2 separate regions of the Homo sapiens genome follow, and region 1 is linked to region 2. Evidence: fine-mapped expression QTL. A gene starts in region 2. The other region holds a variant in brackets. All regions are shown on one strand. Distances are between the middles of the regions.

Region 1 (9,776 bases), 26 kb after region 2:
GCACCATGGTGAAGGGAGTGTTTGAGGAAGGACAATGATGTGTAAACTGGACAGGAACAGTCTGAAGACTGGATATTGTTAGAGCATCAGCAGCAGCCTATGGACATGTGGTTAATTAGAGCCTGGACCAGGTTGCTGGCTGTGAAATTAGACAGGAAAGAACCACAGAGAAAAATGACATTCCTCACTGTCACATCACACTCTCTCCCATTTCCTTTTCAGGTTCTTTAGAACTTCTTTCATTTACCTTAAAGGCTTATTTGCAGACACAGCTCAGCACAAACTCTAACTAGCCTGTAAATCATATATATATATATTTTGGCTAGGCCATGCTTCTACATTCTTAAAAGCCAATGCTACAGTGGGAATGAAAAGGAATCAGACCCAGTATAAATTGTGAATGGCTCTGAACTTAAGGCTTTCTACAAATGATGAAGTATTTAAATAGGAAGTTAAGAAAACCGAGAGGCCCAAGAGTGTCTCATCCAGTAGTACCATTCTTTCTTCCCTACACCTCCTGGCACCTTGGATACTCCCTCAAGCCTTCAGTTTCCTTTGCTCCCTATGGGAAAGCCACTGGATTCATTCAGGACAAGATGCGAGGCATCACACTCAGACTATGAAGACTGAAAGGAAACTTGGAGTAACCCAGCCTAAGCACTCAGGAACCCAGAAACACAAATGGCTGAAGGTGAAAACAAGACTGTAACCCACATTTCCCAATGCCCTCTGGGAGCACGATTTTTCTCCTTTCCTTTTCCTGAAATGCAATCTGAAACAAAATTCTAAAATAAAAATATTTTTTTCTGCTCAAAACTGTGCACATGCGTATTCTCTCTCTCTCTCTCTCTCTAGAATAGAGTCAATAGGAGATAAAACCTTCAGAATTCAAATGTCACCTTAAATACAGTGATTAAATAGCATTCTCTAAGCAGAATTACTTTAAAAGGGAGAAAGATGAAACATTTTTATTTTCTTTATGTTAGATCTGCCATCAAAAGTAATTGATAGACGTGTGCTGTTTTTTTTTTAGCATATCATTGTTACTTCCCTCAAAACTGTTATGTTACTGCTTGTACTCATTTTATTCTCCTTTCAGGACTAAATCTGCTGAAAGAAAAAGACTACATCTTGTTTATCTTTGCATTCCTCATGGGTCCTTGTATTGTTTTTTGCACATTGTTCTATATAAGGTTTTGGCACAGCGCTTACTCTTCTTAAAAATTGGTGGAATAACAGGGCATGAAATGACTTTCATCCAATATTTTTGCAACTTTTACCTTCACTACTTAAAAGAAAAAAGTCAAATAGCAAAATGAATATGCCATGTCAATTGGAGAATTTAACAATCTGTGTTTTAAAAGAAAACAGCTTAGGAAGCTCTGGTCTCAGACATGCTATTCTGAAATCAAAATCACATAGATGAGGCTGAAGAGTTGAATCGTCTTCTGAATCAAATTAAAAATTCAACCCATAGTAATTTTGGCAGAATGAAAACGTCAAATTGCATTTCAGCCAATTTCTCTTCCTTTTCTATAGTCGATGAGTTGTTTTGGGGCACAAGAAAAAATTTCAAGGATTGTGTTTATTTACAATATTTTCAGGAAAAAAAATGCCTGCTTGCTTTCCTGTAAAAGTGAGAGGAGCAGAGAAGCTTCCTAGACTGTTCTCAGATGCTTCAGCTAAAAAGTAAAATAACAGTGCCAATAATTGAAAATAAGGAGAAAAATTATGCCAAACACTTGGCACCAGCTGCAGCAATTAAGTAAGCACCTGCTTTATGCTTCATCTGCCACCATCCCCTCCCTCTTCATTTAGGCTGGTTTCTGGTTTTTTTGAGAATATATGCACCTCAGTGTACAAGCTCGCAGAGCTGTCTTTTTCCTTCTTTTTATTTCATTCCTTTCCCTTTGGCTATCATTAACTCAGGCATGACAGGAAGATCCAGACAAGGACAAGGTAGTAAAGACACCAATATTTCTAAAATCTAGGGCTTTAGAGAATGTTGGGGCAGATGTAACCATAGTAATCACTGGTATGAGAGCACTGATGTCCTTACTAAACAGCAGGTCACACCATCCCAAGGAGACCTTGCAAATGAAGATGCAGATTAGATGTCTGGAAGCAAGATTTTTATTAGCTTAGTCCTGAACCTTAGCTATGCAACAAAAGCCAGCTCTGCAGAGATTTAGGCTCTCAAAGAGACACCATCAAGGAGTTCGAGACTGTTAGGAGCATAGGGCTTAGCATGAGCATCAAATAAGGTATAAAAGAGGTGCTTTGAAAAGTTGAAAGAATTATGCAAATGTAAGGCAGGTATTAATATTAAAGATGTTTATCATAACCCATCTAAGAGAAACAAAATCATAAGTGTATTCATCCACTGGAAATGAATTTGCACTTTTTGGAATCCTGGGCTACCATTTCCTCTTTTCCCTTTTATCCTGTCTATAAAAGCTGGCTAATGATGCACCTACCTCAGAGGCAACTGTGAGGCTTAAATGAGATTATGTGCATGAAGCACCTTGCTCCATGCCTTGTATAGAAAAGATACTTAATAAATGTGAATTGCATTTCAAGGGGAAAATCAAGTACATTATCCTGAGAATTCTTCATACTTGCAGTTCATCAATAGATGCTTCACATTAAATTACATGTTTCCAGGAGAGAAAAATGGAGTGGTCACCCTCAACAGTACACAATCAGTGGAGCTGGCTGCTTCTCACATGGAGAAAACAGATGTGAAACAAAGGCATCCATCCTTCAATTTGTAGGTGTCAAAGTAGCAATTCCCCTCTTCTCATACTGGTAACTACTGCTTTGTTCTTCTGCAGAAAACATTTTAAAGCTGCTTTTGAATTCCCTCTATCATAGCCAGATACCAGCAAAAGAGAGACTCTGAAAACAGAGCAAGAGCTTCTAGGTACAGACCAGAAGCTCCTTGAGGTTAGGGACCATTCTACCTGGTTCCCTGCCACACTCCAGCACTTTCAAGAGTGCCCAGCAGATGACAAGCCCTTAGTATGCACTTACTGAATCATTTCAGTACATCAGAAATTTGAGGAAGTAAATGAGACACAAAATTAAAGGTGCTTTATTTCATCAATTTGATTGGCATGTCCTGCTTCATCTACCTTTGGTGCAAAATAATGTCTCATTTGTTTTAGTGCTTGATGTGGTTTGGATGTGTCCCCACCAAAATCTCATCTTGAATTGTAGCTCCCAAAATTTCCAGGTGTTGTGGAAGGGACCCTGTGGGAGACAATTAAATCATGGGGGCGATTTCCCCCATACTGTTCTCATGGTAGTGAATAAGTGCCACAAGATCTGACGGTTTTGTAAGGGGAAACCCCTTTCACTTGGCTCTCATTCTGTGTCTTGCCTGCTGCCATGTAAGACGTGCCTTTTGCCTTCCACCATGATTGTGAGGGCTCCCTAGACATGTGGAACTATGAGTCCATTAAACCTCTTTTTCTTTATAAATTACCCAGTCTCGGGTATGTCTTTATCAGTAGCGTGAAAACAGACTAATATGGTGCTCAAACCATAATAACTGAAGTTCATCTTATTGATCAGGGGAACCTATCCTACTCCTATAGGGTACTTTTCCCATGAAGTACCCTGATAGAAGTACCAGGAGCAGATAGTCCAAAGTGATTAACTTATTCATTGTTAATTAGTTAATATTACCTCATAGAAGAAACCAGAAAGTCTGGTGAGTCCACCAAAGGGCTCTGTTGTCTGCTGTTTGTGTTGCTTTACATCAGTGCAAAAACCATAAAGTTCAGTTATCTAGAATGAGACCCTATTTGTTTTAATATTACTACAGTATCAAGACAGATAACTATTGACAGTCCTAAAAGATTCTTAGAGATTTTTAGGTGATAAATGGTCTCTCTCTCTCTCTGTGTGTGTGTGTCTATCTCTGTCTCTCCCTCCCTCTCTCTTTTTCTCTCTTGCTCCAGGACTGTGCCCACCCTTGGAACAACTGCACTAATCAGGTCTGAGCTTCTGATGTCACAGCACCTGTGGGGTGCCGACCTTCCAGTTTACACACACAGAGCCACTTTGTGCCTAAGGTACATCTATAGTGCCTAGGTGGCTGGATCAACAGATGCAGCATCCACACCCTGAAATTTTCCTAGAACCCTTTTCTTGACTCCACTCTCCGCTGGAGAACCTAGAAACCCTTAGCTTTAGTTTAAGGTGGTAACATTTGAGGAGTTTGGGAAGGGGAAGAGATGAGCATACTAGGAAAGCAAACAGTGTGACCAAAGGCAGAGTAGCAGGAAACTCAGGGTCAGCCACAAGAAACCTTCACTTGTCTGGACACAGAATCCATGCAGGGTGGGGAGCTGGGAGACGTAGAAAGGCAGGGCTATTTACAGATTTTATATTGAGGGCCAAGTGGTGTACAGAGGAGTCAAGATTTAAAGCGGCAATCATTCTTTCCTCACAACGTGTACAAAATGCTTTGAAAGTTCCCCTTTCTACCACATTTTAGACTTGGTGCAGAGAACTAGAACCCACTGTCACCACTTCAGTGTTCTGCAGAGTGGCGGTGGCCCTAGGGTGCCCTACTGAGCTACAGTGGCACATAGGAGTAGACAGTCTTCCAAATCATTAGGGCAGCATCTCCCAGGCTGGCCTATTGCATAACAAGGAAGAATTCTATGATAGGAACAAGCTGAAAGTGTTATAGGAGTGATATGGTTTTGATCTGTGTCCCCACCAAATCTCATGTCATATTGTAATCCCCATTGTTGGAGGTGGTGCCTGATGGGAGGTGATTGGATCATGGTGGCAGAATTCTCATGAATGGGTTAGCAGCATCTCCTCGGTCCTGTTCTTGTGATAGCAGGTGAGTGAGTTATCATGAGATCTGGTTGTTTAAAAGCATGTAGCACCTCTCTCTTCTCTTTCTTGGTCCTGTTCCTGCCATGTTAGAAGCCTGCTCCCACTTTGCATTCTGCCATGAGTAAAAGCTCCATGAGGCCTTCCCTGAAGCAGATGCTGCCATGCTTCTTGTATAGCCTTCAGAACTGTGAGCCAATTTAACCTCTTTTCTTTATAAATTACCCAGTGTCAGGTTTTTCTTTATAGCAGTGTGAGAAATGACTAATACAAGGGGGCCTTGAAAATACACTCAAGATAGTCTATGACAATCAGAGAACTGATAGTGATCATATCATGAGAATTGACTTCCCAAAATCCTATCTATGTTGATTGATAAGGAGTATGTTCATTCACTGATCTGGCCAAGGAGAATGTGACTGGCCACGATTGGCTTAGACTGATCTTGTCATTGGATTTCAACCCTGGCCATAAAATAGAACCACCTGAGTAGCTAAAGAAAATTGCCGACATCTAGGTCCACACCAGTGATTCTAGACTCATTGGGGCTGAGGGAACAATGAGTACAAAGGCC[G/A]GGAGTCAAGAGAACATGGTGAGTTTATGTGGATATTGATAGTTCTACATGGCCTGAACACAGCGTAGGGAAATAAATTCATCACCTTAGGCCTCAGGTGACACACTGGGACTACCACTGCTCTGTGAGACAAGGAAGTGGTGGGATAAGATCTAATGCTTTGCACCTAAGTCTAAAATGTGGTAGGTTCCCCTGTAGCCATATCAAAGTAGGTGCTGTTAAACAAGGGAATCTTAAATAAATCTTTGAGAGAGTCTGCAGTGGTTAAGGGTGCATGCTTGCGTGCAGCAAAAGATGAGCTCAGTTCTATCATCTAACACCTGGGGAGCAAGCCAGGGGACCAGACCTGAACCTTTGCGGGGAATCAAGTACTTAAAGAGGTATCACCTTTAGATTACCTTGTCCTCACCCTGTTCCCACTATTGTCTTTCCATCGTAGTGTTGAAAACTATAATGTCTACATATTTCACTGTAATGTCCACAAATTCAAAAAAAAAATGCCCAGGTTTGTAGAACGTGCTCCGTAAATGTGACAGTTTCTGCTCTACTTGCAAAGCTCAATAACTTGTAGTCAGGTTCTTGGGCTCTTCCAAGAACTTACCATGCCAAAAACCTATCCTGATTCTACCATTTACTTGCTATGTGCTATTGGGCAAGTTGCTTTACCTGTCTAAAACTCAGCTTCATCTGTAATATGGGGGTAATGATAAGTACTTAGGTCAGAGACTATGTGTTCCTCACACTTTCTTTTTCCTCCTGGTCATAGTCGTTGTGCACTTTTCCCAACCTTTCTTGCAGCTAGGCAGGCCATGTGATTGCATTCTATCCAATGGAATGTTGGCAGGAGTGATGCATGCTATATCCAGGCCTAGATCTTAAGAACCCTCCCATGGGGTCCCTGCCATGTGAACTTGCTCCCTCTACCCTCATCTGCCAGTGAGATGCAGAAGATCCAGTGAAGAACTTCAAGGTCCTGGGGAGGGTGAGTTTATTCAGGAAGGAACCTGAATCCCTCCCCCGCCTTCTGCCCATACTGTGCCATGGGTAAAAATCAGCCTTTAAAATATCAAGCCACTGAGATTTGAGGGTGTTTGTTATGGCTGTTAGCCTCACCTGACTAATTCAGCAATTCTGAGAATCAAACGAGAACATTTATTTATAATCACGGTGTCAGGCACAGAGTAAATATTTAGTAAGTAACAGCTATTTATCATCATATGATGTCAGCCCTGCTTTAGGTATGTAGACTTTTCCCTTCCCATATCTTCAAATGCTATTTCTTCCCTTTGATCCAGTGACCAAGACAACTCTGGATGTCCAGTGCTGCTTTATCTTTAAGCCTAATCACAACATTAATGCATTGCTTCTCTCTGGACCTTGCTTTTCTAGTAACGTTTCCTCGCAAAAATATGGAGGGTAGAGGGGATGTTTCTATCGAGATGATAATGGTTCTGAAATGAGTCAGAAGCATGAGGCATTTCAACTGGCATCATTCATCACAGCTCCATTTTTGCTTCCCCTGCCTTTCTGTATGAAGTCTACAGAGCTGAGAGTTAAATTAGTTTGAGAGCTGCCTCGGATGAGCAGCACAATCTGCTCCACTGTAGCGAACATTTCATAAAAACTGTTCCTGCCGAATTTTCATGAAACTTCCAAATTTTAATTAGAAACTGGAGAACCAGATGGGTGGCAAAAGGAATTTAAGGTAACAAGGGAGTAAGTGCTCTTACACTAAGGTAAAAATCAATAACCGTGTGACCAAGTGGGCACTTAATTGGCATGATTTGGAAAGTTCTAGCGGTTCTCCCTGTGGCCCTCAAACATCTCCATTACATGACAACAATGCCTAAAATTGTTAATAAAAACCCTTCACAATCACATGTTATTTTACAGTTGAGCCTTGAACAATGCAGGGGTTGGGGTGCTAACCCCTTGCAGAGTCAAAAATCTGTGCATAACTTTTTGTCTTCCCAAAAACTCAATTACTAATAGCCTACTGTTGACCAGAAGACTTATCAATGACATAGTTGATTAGCACATATTTTGTATATTTTCTATATATTGTATTCTTACAATAAAGTGAGCTAGAGAAAAAATGCTATTAAAGAAATCATCAGGAAGAGAAAGTATATTTACTACTCATTAAACGGAAGTAGATTATCATAAAGATCTTCACCCTCATCATCTTCATGTTGAGTAGGCTTAGGAGGAAGAGGAAGAAGAGGGGTTGGTCTTGCTGTCTCATGGGTGGCAGAGGCAGAAAAGATGGAGAAGGTGGAAGAGAAGGTGGAATAACCAGGTACACTCAGTGTAACTTTACAGCAATACATTATAATTTCTATTTGATTTTTGCTTTTTCATTTCTCTAAAAATTTTCTATATGGTACTGATCCTTCTTTCACCATTTGATTTAGTTTCAGTGTCTATATCTTAGTAGGGTCCATGTTAGAAAAAAAGTCAAAAGCAGTCATGAATGATCAGAACCACTCTGCTAGATTGTCTAATGTCAATTTGCTTTCTGGAACTGCTTTCCATACATCGTCTTCATCACCTGGCACTGGTTTGAAATCACTCATCTCCATCAAGTTGTCTTCTGCTGTCTTTGGTGAGGTGTTTGTTAGCTCTTAAATTTCTCCAGGATCATCTTGAAAACCTTCAACTTCCCTCCATTTTTTTTTTTTTTTTTTTTTTGCCATATCCACAATCTCATCTGCACTGAAAACTTGTTCAGGTAGATATTCTTTCTCCTCAATGATTTTTTTTTTTTTTTTTGAGATAGAGTCTTTCTGTGTCACCCAGGCTAGAGTGCCATGGCACGAGTTGGCTCACTGCAACCTCCGCCTCCTGGTTCGAGTGATTTTTTTGCCTCATCTTCTCAAGTAGCTGGGATTACAGGCACACACCACCATGCCTGGCTAATTTTTTTGTGTGTGCGTATTTTCAGTACAGTTGGGGTTTCACCATGTTGGGCAGGCTGGTCTCGAATTCCTGGCCTCATGTGATCTGCCTACATTGGCCTCCCAAAGTGCTGGAATTATAGGTGTGAGCCACTGCACTTAGCCCTCAATGATTTTCTTAACAGTGTCCAGGAATTTATCTGCTGCCTCTTGGTTGGTAAGGGCTGCTTATTCTCTTATATTGACATTTTTAAAGGCAAATCTCTTTCTAAAATTATCAAACCATACTTCGCTGGCATTAAATGCTCCAGCTTTAGTTCCTTCACCTTCCTTATGCTTTGTTATGTAAGGACTTTGTTTTTTCACTAATCATATTAGAGTCTATGGGTATGCCTTTCTTATAGCAGTCCTGCATCCACGTAAAAGCTGTATTTTCAATACAAGATTAAAGGGTATTTCAGCTTTTGATTCCAAAATGGTAATGTAGAAACAAGCTTGCTTCACTCTCCCCAACAGAAAACCAAAAACAAATATACAGCTCTGAGATCATAACCAGAAATATCCCAGAGCCAAAATATCAACATGAGAGAGTTTCTGGGGCCACAGCGAAGTTAAAAAAATAAAAATAAATAAACTTTAAGCAGATGGTAATATACTCAGACTTCCACATCTGCAGTACCCCTCCTTCCATTCTTCCCAGCACAAAACAGAAAGATATCCCCCTCAAAAAAGTGAAATTGAGGTGGACAACCAGTTTCTCCAACATTTTGGTTTCCCTGTCAGGAGACCTCTCCTTGCCTTAACCTATGGGAAGCATCATGAGCACCTGAAGGGAGAAATATTCCCGAGAACAGGCAGAGACAAAGAGGGGAGTTAAGACTGCCATTTACAGCCCTGGAAACTATGCTGTTTCACTCAGCCAAAGGAGGCACCAAAACAGAGCAGCTTTTCTGCATTGCCACATTGTAGGGGATTCATCCTACAAGTCCCCTGGGCACAAACCTCTAGACAGCCTTCCCAAATTACCAGTGCATCCCCTTTGGGACCTCCCCTATTTGGAAAGGACAGTGCTATAATCGTTTACTGGAGCCAAAGTGAACCTGGGCTTAAGGCACCACCTAGAGCCAAAAAGGAGGCTGTGACCTAGCAGTAAAGAAACTTCAAGCAAACATATCCAATAAAAACCAAAACAAGCCAGACAGAGGAGAAATACATAACCGATCTTCCAATGCAAAGACATAGATGTAGGTCCACAAGAAACAACAGCAAACAGAAACATGAACTCTCCAAATAGACAAAGCAAAGAAACCAGTAACTGACCCTAATGAGATGGTGATATGTGAGCTATCTGATGAATTCAAAATAGCAGTTTTAAGGAAATTCAGTGATCTCCAAGATGACACAGAAAGGCAATTCAGAAATTTATCAGAGGATTTTAACAAAGATATTGA
Region 2 (9,776 bases):
CAAAGAACCAGGTAGGAAGAGAATAAATTAAAATGAGACTAAAGATAAGTATAGGAAAAGGAAATGTTGAAAGCTTGAAAAAACAATTTGGAAAATATATTTGCAGATTCATGTACTTTATAAACCTATTTATAGAGTACTAGTAATATGTTTTATTATTTTTGTCTCTAAATCTTTCCTATATATTAGTAAAAGAGAATTGTACCCAAAAGTATAAATGGCAAAATCCTACATCACTAAATACTTATCTTTAAAAATAAAAAAGCCTATTTGACTTCACAAGATTTTATAAAACAAAAAAGCAGATTTTAAAATATTCTACTAGTTATAAAAATCTGGAAATAAAAAAAGGATACAGCATCCATAGCTATGAGATGAAACCTTCTATTTCTTGCTTCTTCCCTGTTAAAACAAATTTTTTTAAGAAAATTCAAAATGTTTATATTCAAATTAACATAATCAAATCCCCTAATCCGAAGCAACTTAAACCAAGAAATAGAATTGACACTGAAATACCATACCTATCCAGCAATTCTGCTGCAACTTGTTTATGGGCCACCTTTCCATGTTTTTCTTTCTGAAATGGTTTTTGGAGCAGTAAGTCATCTTCAACTGTCCTGATATATTAAGAAGAAAATAAGAGTTCACTTTTTTCAAAGGTTATTTTCTAATTCTTTATATTTTCATAACTGGAATATACTTTAAAGAATGTAAGTCTTAACTTTAAGAAGACTCACTGATCTTTAATGAGATATTTTACATTTCCTTAAATAGCTTAATTAATACCTTAACATTATTTTAATACCTATAACACGGGGAAGATGAAACTAACAAAAGCATGGACTCTAGTGTCATATCACCTAGCTTCCTGATTCAAATCCTAATTCTGTCAATTACTACCTTAATCTTAATAAGATTCAATTATTTATCTCTTTGTTTCTTCATTTCTCTATCTGTAACATAGTGATAAGGAAGTTTTTGGTAATTAATGATACACAAAAAGCAAGGCTGATTATAGAGAACACAAACCACAGATCCAGCTCGCCCAACCCATGGGCCTCATGTGGCCCAGGATGGCTTTGAATGTGGCCCAACACAAATTTGTAAACTTTCTTAAAACATTAAGACACTTTTTCACATTTTTTTAAACCTCATTGGCTATCATTAGTGTATTTTACGCAGGCCCAGCACTGCTTCAGGCCAACAATGTGAACCAACAGATTCACAATTGTGTGTGCTCCACTGTAGTACGTGGCCCAAGACAATTCTTCTTCCGATGTGGCCCAGGAAAGCCAAAAGACTGGACACCCTGCCATAGACTGTCAGCCCTAGTTATAGTGATGAATATAATCCTGGAGCAGAGTATCCAACTAGATTTGCTCAAATTCTATTCTTACAAAGTAGTATTTTTGAATGAAAAATCTAGAAAATGTAAAGCATCAAAAATGTAATTTATTATAATTAGTACTATCCTTTATTGCAGAGACTGAGTATCCTATAAAAATGTTCAGAACCTGTTAGTATGCCTAATATATTGCTCTCAGTGTGAAATAATAAGCCAATTTCTATACATTTGCTTAAAAAAATCAGTCAACAGCCGTGTAAGTTTGGTTAGTATACATCAGTCAACCACTCCTGAGTCAAAGTATAAAACTGAGTTTCTATGCACTGAAAGCTAAGAACAATGCTCCTACGCACAGCAGCTCCACCAAGACGTATCCTGCTTATAACGCACAGGCTTTATGTGCTAAGAGTTTTTGTCTCTTGCAATTCAAAAAAACCTTCCTTGAGTTTCTTCCCGTGACCTTAGTCTGCTCATTCACGTATGCGTAAGAACTGTGCTGCATTATACTTTCATCCTCCATATTAACTTCACTTTGAAGGCAAGTAATGGCAAGAGACCACCATTCAAGCCCCTTCTGAGCTACAACATTTACAAATAAACAGTCCTTGACAGTTGAATGAAAAATATATGTAATGAAAAGGTTTCACTGATTTCTGAAAAGATTCCAGAAATCTGAAACTCTTCTTTCCCTTTCAATAAACCCCTTTGCAGAATTAATTTTTATTTTTCCCACAATTGTTCTCCAATTTTTAATCAATGTATTAGCTTAATGAACAAAAATTCATTCACTAGAGCAATTGTCTTCACATGTAAACAGAATTCAAAAATTTCACTCTTGTTTATTTATACTTCATATTAATCTAGAAAGGATGTGAAAAATAGATCAATAAAAAAAAATTACTTACCTTTTTTTCCTTTTGCTGGATTCTCCACAGCGTTCATCATCACTAAAATCAGAATCATAGCCTCCATGACCATGCATCTGTAAAGGAGTACAAAGTCAGCTATTTAGAATCTATGTTGCCAATTGTCCAGGAAACAATAATTCAAAAATAAGTTATCTTAAACAGCCACAATAGTTTTAAAGGATCATTGTGGGCAGATTCCTATTCACAGGCCATCTAGCCATCTAAAACTTTCATTCGCTTTTAAATAAGAGACATACCTTTCAGGAAATGCATCAACATTTTTCACCCTTAATTATCATTAGGTGAACAAAGAAGGCTACTCTTTGATCTTTTCACTGAAAAACCAGGCCTAAAAGCTGCAGTGACTGCTTACAAGGTTTAGCAATCCTTCACTTTTGATTCAGAGTAGTAATAATCACTGTGTGTTTATCACCAACTTTGTTCTAGACATTGTGTTAAATACTTTACAAACAACACTTCTAATTCTGCAAGTTAGAAAGTTATCTTCATTTAGGAATGAAGTAATCAAAGTTAAGTAAATCTATTTACAAATCCAGTAAGTGGCTAATCTGCTGTACTTGATTCCTGCGCCCACAATTTCAATTACTCCAAATTTCCTCTCTGGAATATGATTTACTATATTCCAGGAGAATTACAGTATTTGTGAACAGTACATCATCAATTGATGAAAATTTTCCTGTAATCTTTTTCAATATATGTAGAGATTTCCATTTTCTTTTGAGTTTCTTTAAGGTAAACCACCTTGCCCTTTGGATTAGTCAGCTTTCTCTTGTTTCATTTTATTTATCCAGTTATTTTTGGAGAGTCTCGCTCTATTGCTCAGGCTGGAGTGCTGTGGCGCCTTGATGGCTCACATCCTCAACCTCCTGGGCTCAATCAATCCTCCCACCTCAGCCTCTCCAAGTAGCTGAGACTACAGGAGTGCATAATCACACCTGGCAAACTTAAAAAAATTTTTTTTTTGTAGATAAGGGGTTTCGCCATGTTGCCCACGCCGGTCTCAAACTCCTGGGCTTGAGCAATCCGTCCACCTCAGCATCCCAAAATGCTGGGACTTCATTTTAGAACTGAAATTCTTAGAAATGCTGGAAGACCTCAGTTGCCACTCAATTGTATTGGAAGAAGCTCCTAGTTCCAGCTTTGCACTGAATTTGGAACACACACTAAGAAGGAAGGATGGACTATTTGATGTCATACATAACTAATTTACATGGCTGGAAGGAACAGTCCAGGTTAAATGATATATCAAATTGTTAAAACTAATATAACGACAGCAAGTGCAGCTGGAAAAAGAGGAAAGAACTCTCTAAACTTCATTGCATTGGATCTAGGGTAAACGACATGTTTCTAGTCCTGGCTACCTTGAATAAGTCATTTCATCTCCCTGGACTTCATCTATTAAATAAGATAGCTACATGAAATAATCTTTAAGTTGTTTAAATCTTTAAATAACCTTTAAAGTCTGTAATTCCATTTTCAAACATAGGTGTGTGGGTATATACCTCTCTTCTCTGCCCCACTAAAATCCTAGATAGGAAGATGCTAGTTAAGGTTGGAGATGAAGGTTTGAAAGCCCGAGTTCCAACTCTACCCTCCCTTACATCTGTTATTGCCTTACACACCTGGATTTTACACCCTTTTTTAGGTCAACTCCAGCTGTCTTACCACATCTGTTCAAGCCATATTGTCCTCTCACTCTTTGTCCTATGTCCTCACGTTCTTTACATCTTGATGGGGGACAGCTGTAGTGTGTTTAGAGATATATTCTAGGATCAGCCTACTAGATTTCACTGCTTGGCTCTGCACTTTCCATTTGTCTTTCTTTGGGCCTGTTCCTTAACCTCTCCAAGCCTCAGTGTCCTCATTTATAAAAAGAGGCTAGTAAGATGGCTGACCTCATACGAATGGAGATTAAAAGAGTTGCCTCATCTAAAGGGTTTTAACGGTGTCTTGTACAGTGAAACCCAGTAAATGTTACATCATCATCATCATCTTTTCCCTCGCCCCAGGACACGACTTCCTATTCTTGCTCCCACTCTCCCATTTCTTTATTCGCTGGCCGCTCCATCCGACCCATACCTATCTTAACTCACTGGTTGAACTAAAAAGCTCTCACTCACTTCAGGCCTACGAATCAACTGACAAGAGCGGGGAGAAACTCAAAAACGGAGATGCCAGGTGTCTCCAGAATCTGTCATCCAAAAAAAAAAAAACCAAACCAAAACAAAAAAAAACCCGACGATCAGCTAGTACTATATGAAAAACAAGTTTTGAGGTCCTTCTCCCTGATGCCAAATATACCCACAGCCCTCCTCACACACCCTTTCCCTTCCTCCCTGTGTGCCAAGTTCGCCCCCGGAGTCGTCGTTTCCTTCTTTCCCGGCAGCTGCAGCGACGACCCACGGCCTGAGAGAGCCGCTGCAGCACAGGTCCCGTGCGCCCTGCCGCACAGCCTCGCCACAACCACCACCGCCGCCGCCGCCGCCGCCGCCGCCCGCAACCCGCCTCTCCCTACGGGTCCCGACTGGGCACCACTTCCGGTCCGACACGGCCACGTGTTACATCTAAATGGCACCGTCCCCCGAGTGCGCCGACCTTGTGCTACAGCCAGAACAGCTCCGGGAAACAAGGGCAGCGGGAGAAACGGCCCGGAAAGGGACGAAGAGGCTTCCAGCTTTCGCCAAGTCGCGGCTCCCAGTTTTTCCCTGGGCCTCCTTCCTTTCCCCTCTAGGGAATCCGGCATCTAGTACCGCTGGCACTGCTTGCTGCTTAGCCCACGCCTCTCATTTGAAAATATATTTTGTTTTACCGTGCCTATCACCTGCCGTCCTCTCTCTAGTAACCTTAGTAACGCCTCCTCGGAGGATCCTCTCAGAGCAGCTCATCAGCGCTTCAGATCAGCCTCTCCCTCCTTCCCCCAGTAAAACAGTTCTCATAATTAGAACAAAAATATCTCTCCATCGTTTCGCCACCCACACAATAGATACCATTCCAAAAGCAGTGCTGATGGCAGAAGAGCTCATCGAATTTGTGAGGAAAGAAAGAATAGGAGGAGAGATTTCTCAGGGTTGAGGATTCTCTGCCGACAAGCGACCTGGCACATGCGAAAAGGGATCCAAAATAGAATCTTAAAAAGAAGAAGAAAAAAGGCAGGAAAAGTTGGATTATTTTAAGCGCCACTAGGTTCTTCCTGTGCTTTGCGTTTTCTACATCACGACGCCCCACTCTTTCCACTCTAGTTGTTTGGTTCATGTCTTGTCTCTCGCTGGCATTAGCAGCTATTCATTTTTTGCTTCCTCCTCAGTACCCAAAACGGTGCCTTGGAAATCACAAGTGCTAATTAAATATTTGTTGAATTGAACTGGCACGCTTCTGGCGTTTACAGTGGGCCCTTTTTAGAGAAAACCTTGGCACTTAATGCACAGTCATTTTACATCTTTTGCCCTAAACAGTAGATAACGATATCCTTATCAGTTCAAGTCTCTAACCCTGACAATAAATTATAGATACATTCTGCTTTATCCATTGCACTGAATGTGATCTTAAAAGGCTATAAGATAAATTAAATTATTGTAAATTAACTTATTCCAAAATGCAATCAGATTATACTTCAATAAAAACTTTTACTAAAAAAAGTGAAAGCAATAGGAAGCCTTACAATTTGACGTTATAGTATATGGAATTATTTTGTCAAGCAGTTTCTTTTTTGGTAAATATATTAAATATATAATTATTTTATTGTTAATAAAACTAAACAGACCTATACCTCATATCCAATTTCCTTTCTATCCATATTTGACATTTATTAGCATTTTTCTACCATCCCTAGCATCTTCTTGTTTGTTGCTTCATTTTACTCTTCCAACAACCCTGTGCTGCTGTGTTATTAGCCTCATTTTACACATAAGGAAGAGAGGCACAGAACCTAAAGCCACAAACCTGGTGAGGGTCGAGAACTGGGTAGTACTTGTGTCTGTCTCTCTATAAGACCCAGTTTCTCTCTCTCTCTTTCTCTCTTTTCTCTCTCTCTCTCTGTCTCTCTCTCCCCCACTTCATGGATTGTGTGGGAAGTAGCTTCTGGTTCCAACATTTCTAAGAATTTCAGATCTGTTGCTACCAGTCCATTCAGGCAAAGATTTCCATTTTTTACTTTGAGACAGCAGTTACTGAAAAAGAGTAAATAGAAAATATATATTAGGCATAGATTGCATGATCTGAACTAGAAATAATACAGGATAGAAAACCCACCTGCTTAGGAAATCTCAAGTTAACAATTATAGCTCAACAACAATAAAAAACACAAACATTTATTCAGTGCCTACTCTGGGCAGGACACTGCCCTAGACATCAGGGTTACAGGTATGTAACAGCAACTCCTTATCCTTGAAGGTTGACTAGTAAGACAGACAATGTGTGGAATAACTACAACAATATATTCTATCATATACCAAGTGTCTAGTACATGCATGAACCTGTTGTTCCTAATTTATAAAATATGTTATTTCAATGGATATGAAAATTTAAATGTGCACCAATGCTATGTAACTCAAAGCAACAAAATACTATATTAAGTATGTGGTCAGGATGAGGGAAGTTGGGTGATGATGGTGGTGATAATACCAAGTAATAATTCTGATATAAACTATGACTGTGCATTCTTTTTTATTCAAGACCGAGTCTCACTCTGTCACCCAGGCTGGAGTGTAGTGGCGTGATCTCAGCTCACTCCAACCCCTGCCTCCTGGGTTCGAGCAATTCTCCTGTCTCAGCCTCCCGAGTAGCTGGGACTAGAGGCGCACACTACGCCCGGCTAATTTTTGTATTTTTTTACTAGAGATGGGGTTTCACCATGTTGGTCAGGCTGGTCTCGAACTCCTGACCTCAGGTGATCCACCCACCTTGGTCTCCCAAAGTGCTGGACTTACAGGCGTAAGCCACCGCGCCCAACAAATGTGCATTCTTTCTTTTCTTTTCTTTTTTTTTTTTTTGAGACAGGGTCTCACTTCATCACCCAGGCTGAAGTATAGTGGTGCCATCTCAGCTCAACCTCCACCTCCCGGGTTCAAGCCATTCTCCTGCTTCAGCCTTCCCAGTAGCTGGGACTACAGGTGTGAGCCACCATGCCTGGCTAATTTTTGTATTTTTAGTAGAGGCAGGGTTTCACCATGTTGGCCAGGCTGGTCTCGAACTCCTGACCTCAAGTGATCCCGCCTTGGCCTCCTAAAGTGCTGGGATTACAGGGGTGAGCCACTGCGCCTGGCTGAATATGCATTCTTCTAATACTGTGTGTCTTTGAGAAGATTGCATTTTCCATGTTCTTTTTATAATATGATGCTGACACTTCTCTAACATAAGCTAATACCTATGGCCACAGCTTTGAATCTGGGCATGTCAGTGACTATAGCAGAAGTAATGCTAAGACACTTCTGATGCTAAGTTGCAAAAGGTGTTAGAGCTTCTGCCTGGGTTTGTCACTCTACTTCTTTAGCTGACATGGAGTGGAGCAGAGATGAAGTAACTTCACTGAGCCTCACCCAGATTGCAGACTAATAATCAGAATAAGTATAATTGTTTCAAGCCACTAAGACTTTGAGGTTGTTTGTTATATACCGATAAATATCCAGAACCATCTGCTGTCTCACTTAACCTCCATAACATTTGATGTTATGGAGCCACGCTGGGCTTTCTTTGTTTCTTCAACATGCATGCCTCTTCAAATTTACCATTTCCTCTACCCGGAATGGTCTTAAACCCTTTCTGTTTGCCTCCCTAACTCCTCTTTATCCTTCAAAACTCAACTTAGGTGAAGGAAAGGCCTTTCATGAGCATCTCTCCCACAGACTAGATAGGATTACTGATAATATGCACATTACTTTCCATTGCACTTAGCTACATACGTAGTAATAATTTAGCCCTGTTTCCCTCACTGAGATGCAAGCTCCACAATGGCAGGAAGCATACCTCTCTTTTTCAGTGTGGAATCCCCAGTGCTCAGCACAGTGCCAGACACATGATAGTTGCTCAGAATATTTATTGAACAAATGAAGTGGGTACTATTATTATCCCTATTTTACAATAAGAAAACAGATTTTTTTAAAAAAATTATATAACACTTCCAGAGTCATGAGTAAGCAAATGGGGCACAAATATAAGTGACTTCAAAGCTCACACCATATATATGTGTGTGTGTGTGTGATATGGTTTGGCTCTGTGTCCCCAGCCAAATCTTATGTTGAATTGTAATCCCCAATGTTAGAGGTGGGGCCTAATGGGAGGTGATTGGATCATGGGGGTGGTTTCTAATGGTTTACCACCATCTCCCTAGTGCTGTCTTGTGATAGAATTTTCAAGAAATCTGGTTGTTTAAAAGTGTGTAACACCTCCCTCTTTGCTCTCTTTCTCCTACTCCTGCCATGTAAGACATGTCTGCTTCCTCTTCACCTTCCACTACGATTGTAAATTTCCTGAAGCCTCCCCAGCCGTGCTTCTTGTGCAGCCTGTAGAACTGCGAGTGAATTAAACCTCTTTTCTTTACAAATTACCCAGTCCCAGGTAGTTCTTTATAGCAATGTGAGTACTAATACTAAATATATACATATATATATACACACACACATATATGTATATATAGAGAGAGATAAGTAGAGAGAGAGTGTTATCTCTCTGTTGCCCAGGCTAGAGTGCAGTGGCACAGTCATGGCTCACTGCAGCCTCAACTCCCAGGCTCAAGCAATCTTCCCACCTCAGCCTGCTTAGTAGCTGGTCCATAGGCTGCTGCCACCACACCTGGCTATTTGAAAAAAGATTTTTGTAGATACAGGGTCTCACTATGTTTCTCAGGCTGGTCTCACACTACTGAGCTCAAGCTATACTCCCACCTCGGCCTTCCAAAGTGCTGGGATTACAGGTGTGAGCCACAGCACCTAGCCCAAAGCTCACGCTATTGACCACCATACATATTGCCTTTCAATAAGGCCCATGGTGGTTTGTGATACTTAAAAGAATTAGAAACTTTTTTTATGGAGGAAAGGTACCACATACATTGAGACAGAGGGATTAGTAAGAGGCAGGAAAGGCTTTGTAGAGGAAGTGGGACTTAAGCTATGACTTAAAGGTAGCTCTTGAGAGGAGAGGAGAGGAGAGGAGAGGAGAGGAGAGGAGGGGGCAGTCAAGGCAAGGGAGTTTCGGTAAAGGATTAGAGGTGGAAATATCCACAGGTTATTTAGAGGAATTTGAGTAGCTCACTTGAGCTGGAGAAGAATTTTTGAAAAGGATTAGTGAAAGAAAGATCAGAAAGAGAGATTAGAGCTAGATTTGGGGCATTCTTAAATGCTAGGGTGCAGAGATTAGTTTAGAGCTAGGGAAGTATTGTACATAATACAGTGGTGGTTTGGACTGGTAGATATCTGAAATCAAATTTATATATAAATCCTGGCTCTGCCATTTACCAGCTATGTGGCGTTGAGCATCACTTAATGTTCTTCAAATTTTCATCGTCTTCT

Evidence for each region. PIP is the estimated chance that this variant, and not a neighbour inherited with it, causes the effect.
Region 1: its variant is fine-mapped to the expression of FRA10AC1 in hippocampus (GTEx, PIP above 0.99). The same link has a PIP of 0.9 or more in prefrontal cortex and tibial nerve.

The regions. Positions count from the first base shown.
Region 1 is chr10:93,724,134-93,733,909 of GRCh38, forward strand. No RefSeq gene overlaps it. Among named protein-coding and RNA genes, the nearest start is that of FRA10AC1, 26 kb to the left of the region's middle. The variant G/A (reference allele first, on the strand shown) is at 5,429.
Region 2 is chr10:93,697,780-93,707,555 of GRCh38, forward strand. It overlaps FRA10AC1 (FRA10A associated CGG repeat 1), which reads right to left and starts at 4,813. Exons shown (of 14, transcript NM_145246.5): 1 at 4,596-4,813; 2 at 2,251-2,327; 3 at 522-617; 4 at 357-402. The coding sequence starts at 2,327. RefSeq lists an enhancer at 4,802-5,101.